Linked DNA regions of Homo sapiens: region 2 is linked to region 1. Evidence: fine-mapped expression QTL. A gene starts in region 1. The other region holds a variant in brackets. All regions are shown on one strand. Distances are between the middles of the regions.

The links. PIP is the estimated chance that this variant, and not a neighbour inherited with it, causes the effect. A credible set is the group of variants that fine-mapping cannot tell apart.
Region 2: its variant is the best candidate, but not a certain one, in a credible set for the expression of FKBP1B in whole blood (TOPMed, PIP 0.82).

What each region holds. Positions count from the first base shown.
Region 1 is chr2:24,048,299-24,051,199 of GRCh38, reverse strand. It overlaps FKBP1B (FKBP prolyl isomerase 1B), which reads right to left and starts at 1,459. Exons shown (of 4, transcript NM_004116.5): 1 at 1,314-1,459. The coding sequence starts at 1,350. RefSeq lists a silencer at 1,298-1,597.
Region 2 is chr2:23,693,049-23,695,949 of GRCh38, reverse strand. It overlaps KLHL29 (kelch like family member 29), which reads right to left. Exons shown (of 14, transcript NM_052920.2): 8 at 2,422-2,681; 9 at 129-327. It also overlaps a transcript of ATAD2B not described here. Among named protein-coding and RNA genes, the nearest start is that of ATAD2B, 230 kb to the left of the region's middle. The variant A/G (reference allele first, on the strand shown) is at 1,099.

The DNA.
Region 1 (2,901 bases):
ACCATGCCCAGCTAATTTTTGTATTTTTAGTAGAGACGGGGTTTCAACATGTTGGTCAGGCTGGTCTCGAACTCCTGACCTTGTGATCCGCCCGCCTCAGCCTCCCAAAGTGCTGGGATTACAGGCGTGAGCCACTGCATTTTAAGAAGAGTCTTCAGGCTATGATATAGAAAGGGAGTGAATATGAGATTGGGGACGAGATTGAAAGCAGGGAGGAGAGACTGAAGATGGGGAGATTAGCTCAGGGGCTGCTGAGGGATGAAAAGGCCTCAGGGAGATGCTTTCTGGGACCCAGCAGCAATGTTTCCTGCGTGGGCAAAGAAGCCTGTACTCCAGGGGATATCTGAAGTAGTGGCTGGGATTGGACAAGGAAGATGGCCTGGAGCCAAGAAGTTATCCAATTTCCTGGGGAGGGGAGCTGTTCATATTAATAATATCTGATATGAAGTTTGCCCATCAAACCCTGCAGACAATGGGGGCTTTGGTATTAATTAAATTTCAAGAAATAAAGAAATGGCTATTCCTTGCACACCCAGACCCAGTAATACAAGGACTTGGGAAAGTGAGACACGGAAGGGGGATAAAGAGGATCACTTAGGAGAGAAGGTGGGAAGCGAGAGTTCTGTTTTGGACTTGCTGACCAGGGAGCACCCTGGGACGTCCAGGGAGAGGTTCGGCCGTAGGTCGCAGGGCTGGGCTTAGAAGCTTCAATGTGGAGGCCATGGGAGTGGACAGGGTGGCCAGGGAGTCTGAAAGCGGCGGCAGGATAAAGCGAGATCCGGAAGCGGGCAAGGGAGCGCTTCCCCCTTCCCCAGCCTGGGTCTGTCCCCACAGCCGCTCACAGCCCGGCCCGCAGGGAAGCGACCGAGGGGAGGCCCGGCGGGGGACGCGCTAGGAGGAGGTCCCCGAGCAGCGGGTATCCGAGAGCAGGTCCTGCTTTCCAGAGCTCGCCGAGTAGGGCAGGGAAAGCGAAGCCGAAACCCAGGCTGGGGTATCAGCAGCAGCGGATAACCGAACGACTGCAGCCGCGACAGGAGAAGCCCGGGGCGGTGGCGGGCCGCAGACCCCCGCCTCCGGGCCGCAGACCCCCGCCTCCGAGCTGCCGCCTACATTCCCCTAGGTGAGCGCGGAAGAGGATGGCGGAGGATGGTCTCCTAGACCCCCAAGAATCCCGTCCGGCGTCTCCGCCTGCCTTCCCCATCCAGCCCCCCGACCCTTCAGCACCCTCCACGCCACCTCCGAATCAGACCCCCGCCCTCCGGGCTCCGCCCCGGGACCCCTCCCCTCCCCTGGCTCCGGAGGGAGCCCGGTACCGTCTCCGGGGGAGATGGTCTCGATCTCCACGCCCATAGCGGTCCCACAGGCCCCGCCTCTGGGGGGTCCCTGCTGCTGCCCGACCCCGGCTCGGCTCCGGCCCCAGCCCCGCCGTCGCTCCGGCTCGCCTCCTCGCCGCCACTGCAGAGCCGGAGGAGGTGCGGCTGGAGTCGGGACCTGCGCGGGGAGGGGCCACTGGCAAGGGGGCGGCGGGGCGGAGCCGCGCGGAAAGGTGGGGTCGGCCGGGGCGGGGCCCGGGGGAAGGGACCCCGCCCGGCTGTTAGCGAGCCTGGCCCCGCCTGACGACATTAACCCACTGACCAGGGAGCGTGGTAAGCACAACCACATCCTCCATCCATCCATTCATTCGCGCATCCGTCCAATAGACATTTATTTAGCATCTAATCTGTAGTAAGCTCTGGGAAGTCAACCCAGTCCTACAGACTTGTGGGGGGTGGGGGGCAGAAGGGGCAAAGGCCGGCGATTAAACCATCATTTTATTTTTATTTTTATTTTAGACAGAGGATCTTGCTCTGTCGCCCAGGCTGGAGTCCAGTGGCGCGATCATAGCTCACAGCAACCTCGAACTCTTAGGCTCAAGCGATCCTTCTTCCTCAGCCTCCACCCAAGTAGCTGGGACTAGAGGCGCGAGCAACCACGCCCAGCTAATCTTTTATTTTTTATTTTTATTTTTTGTAGAAACGGGGTCTCGCTGTGTTGCTATCTAATGAAACCATCACTTTAATTAGATGCGCTCAGTGCCGTGCAGTTCAGAGCGTTGCGGAAGCACAGAAGAGGTTCCTACCCTCGCTAGGCGTCCTGGATCTGTAGGAGCAGAGCTGGGGGAGGGAGGGAGGACACCAGTAATTGCTGACTCTCCCCCATACCCCTAAACCCCTGTTCTCCATCTCGTGTAGTTCTGCTCGACGCACATTTATTGGGTACTCAATTTTCAAGGCAAAGAAATGCGCCCTGGGGATACCAATAGAATTAAGACAGGTTGGCTGTCTTCCAGGTACTAAGTCTGAGAGGGACGGGGACACACAGTTACTGCATGGAGTGATTAGTGCTGTGGAATGAATGAATGAATATGTAAATGAATTCTACTTTGAGTTCCTCCTCCACCAAAAAATACATTCAGGAATCTAGAAAAATATTTTTTGGAGGAGGTAATATTTGTTTAAAGGGTAATTGGGACTTTTAAAATTTTTTCCCCCTCATTATTACCTGCATTGTTCCAAAAATTGATGTGAGGCCAAGTATATCAATTTTTGGAACAATGGCTCACACCTGTAATCTCAACACTGTAGGAGACCGAGGCAGGAGGATTGCTTGAGCCTAGAAGTTCAAGACCAGCCTGGGTAACATAGCGAGATCCCGTCTCTCTCTCTCTCCTTTTTTTTTTTTTTTTTTTTGAGACAGAATCTTCACTCTGTCGCCAGGATGGAGTGCAGTGGCACAATCTCGGCTCACTGCAACCTCCGCCTCCCAGGTTCAAGCGATTCTCGTGCCTCAGTCTCCCAAGTAGCTGGGATTACAGGCGTGAGACACCAGCGTTCGGCTAATTTTTAAATTTTTAGTAGAGAC
Region 2 (2,901 bases), 360 kb after region 1:
TGCAGGGACATGGATGGGCGCCCTTGGGACACACTCTAAGACTGTCGGCATCTGTGCCTGGCACCTCACTGGAACCACTGAGCCCAAGACACTGCTTCTTGGGAGGTTCGGGGCGTGCCCCTTCATACCTGCAGAGAGGCGCGGCCGGGTTCGGGGCGTCTGCATCTCCTGGCGGGCGTGGGGCAGCATATGGTAGCGTTTGGCCTCGTTCACCAGGTCCCGGCAGGCTTCTGATGACTTGATCAGCTCTTCATTGTCAACCACATTGAGCAGGTAGCTGGGGTGGATGAAGGGGAGGCGGACCACGGCCAGGAGCTCAGCCGCGTACTGCAGGGTACAGGAGACAGAATCTTCTTAGACTAGCAAGAGAGAGCCACCTCCCGGACGGAAAGAAATGGTGTGGGGCTGCACAAGAATGGATAATTCCAGGCTGTGTTAGGCTTGGGAGTGTAGATACTCTGCTAGCCTAGACAGAGGTGAAGGGAAGTCTAGTCAGCTGGAGGTGTGGAGGGGAGGGCCGGGAGCGCAGGGGTGCGGAGGGGAGGCTGGCAGGCTGCAGCCAGCCCTGCAGGAGTGGGAGCATGTGTTCATCCCCCCAGCACCCCATTCTCTCACTCCACCTGGGGCTGTGGACCCCTGCTGCAGATCAGGCCACTGGGGGCAGGGGCGAGGGGTTAAAATGAGGAAGACGCGATTATTAAAGAGCTGTGAGTGTGACAAGGACTCAGGAACAGGTGGGAGGACCCAGGAAAGCTTCAAGGAGATGGCGACTATTGAGCTTGTAAGTCTCAGCCGTGGGAGCCTGTGTCTCTCCAGCACCGAAAACTTTCAGTGGTGTCCCATGTCCCACGGCCTCAAACTGTCACCCTGCACTGAGGTGGTTTTACAGGCTCCCTTGAATCTCCCCTCCTAACAAACTCTGCTCATCACTCTACTTTCGTTTCATCCCATGAGTAACGAGACCACCATAGGCCAGGCATGACGCTCATCACTGGGGGTGCAGAGACCACTGTGACCCAGTTTCAGACCTCAAGGGGTACACAGTTTAATGGGAGGGGATCTGCTATGAAAAATTCACGAGGGGCAAGAGGAGTGTCT[A/G]GTGAGGGTTTGTAGTGGGTGCAGGAGTAAGAGGTTTTGCAGAGGGAATGGCATCTGGATGGGGTATACAAAATGGGCAGACTTCTGCCAGGCACAAGGTGGATGGGAGGGTGGACATTCGAAGCCCGTGTAGAGGCGTCAGAGAGTGAAAGAGAATGGTGTGTCTGGAGAATTGTCTGGGGTTTATTCTTACGAGATGTAACAGGATTTTGTTGAGGAGGCGTTTAGGGAGACAGGGAGAAGTGAGAGGAGAGAGGCTGGGGAGGCCAGCTCATGCTCATGCTCAACAAGGACTGCACAGTTTCCCCTGTGGAGTCGACGAGGCAACTGAGGAGGGGTTTGAGTGGATGGATGAGATGTTCAGTGTGCTTTTAGAGAGACCGCTCAGGCTGGAGGGTGGAAAATGGATTTGGAGGGAGCAAGACAGAGGCAAGGAAACCACTTAGGAGGTGCTGCAGTAATCCTGGCGAGAGGAGGAAGGTCTCGATGGGGAGAGGGAAGTCGATCCACTTAAAGGGGAGGAAGGAGGCAGGAATGAGCGCGTGTAGCGAAATGGCTATGGGAGAAGTGGGAGGAAGCTAAGCTTCAGTTCTGGGGACCAGGCATCGCTGAAATAAGGAACAGGAAGAGGTGTAGGCTTTCGGCTTGGTGAATTAGACGGATCTGCAGGACATTCTGCTGGAGAGGCCCAGAAGGCCACTGAGCAGAGGGGTCTGGAGCTCAGGAAAGGGTTTCAGCCTGAGACACAGATCTGGGAGTCATAGGGACTTGTGGCTGTCACTGTTATTAGCTGCCCCATCTAACTTCCTACCTCTGAAAAGAAACCCTGCCTCCCACCTGATCTGAGGACCCCTTTCTCTGGGGCTCAATGGCGAGATCTGGGGCGGGAGCCCTCTCTGTATCCTCTGTTTACCCAACACAGTCCCCTCAGGACCTCACTCTCCCTCTTCCTGCATGCAGGGGTTTCCATTTGGTCCATTGCGGGCTGTCCATCCCCTCAACAATCAGAGCAGGTATGGGCTCCTCCAGCTGGGTCCGTGTTCCTGGGAGCCCCAGAGCCCCCTGGCTCAGGGACCCACTTCTCCCTGCAGAGTGCAGGTGCTGCGGCTCTTGGCCGACTTGGGTCTCCTTTGGGGTGGAATGCCAGCCCTTGAGGATCCTTTGGTGACTGGTTTCTCACCTCTCTGCCCGCCCTTCACCTCTCTGCCACTTAGGGAGAGCAGGACAAGGAAGGTTCACTTCCTTCCTCCTTGCTGCAGACCCCATTGCCGCAGGGGGACCCCAAACCCAGAGAGAAGGGGCGGGGGACAGGGCAGGCCCCACCTGTGTGCGTGTCGCGGGGTCCTTCTTGATCCACTTGATGACTGTCTCGTACACCAGCTCCTCAGCCTTGGTGTTGAGGCTGTCGTTGGAGACGTAGGCGATGAAGTCGTCCTTGGAGATGCTGAGGATCTCCTCCTGGGCGGCCACCTCGGGGAAGATCTGCAGCGCGAAGGCCTTGGCCATGTGGTAGAGCTCGCTGCACTGCATGGCCTCGGCCATGGCCAGCACGCCCAGGCAGTTGCTGGCCGTCAGCTGCTTCTCTGGGGGCGACAGCGCAGGACCACTGACCCAAAGGCCCGGGAAGCAGTTGCCACCTGTTCCCATTGCTGTCACCCTAGATCCTTCTCTGAACCCACATCCCGGGGGACCCTGACTGCAGTGTCCAGAGTCCCTGCAGGCCCCCTTCCTGGGTGTCTGGAGGCTTCGATCCTTCTCCTGGGTTCTCCCCTACCCCATTTCATGCTGACTCCCAGGGGCCTC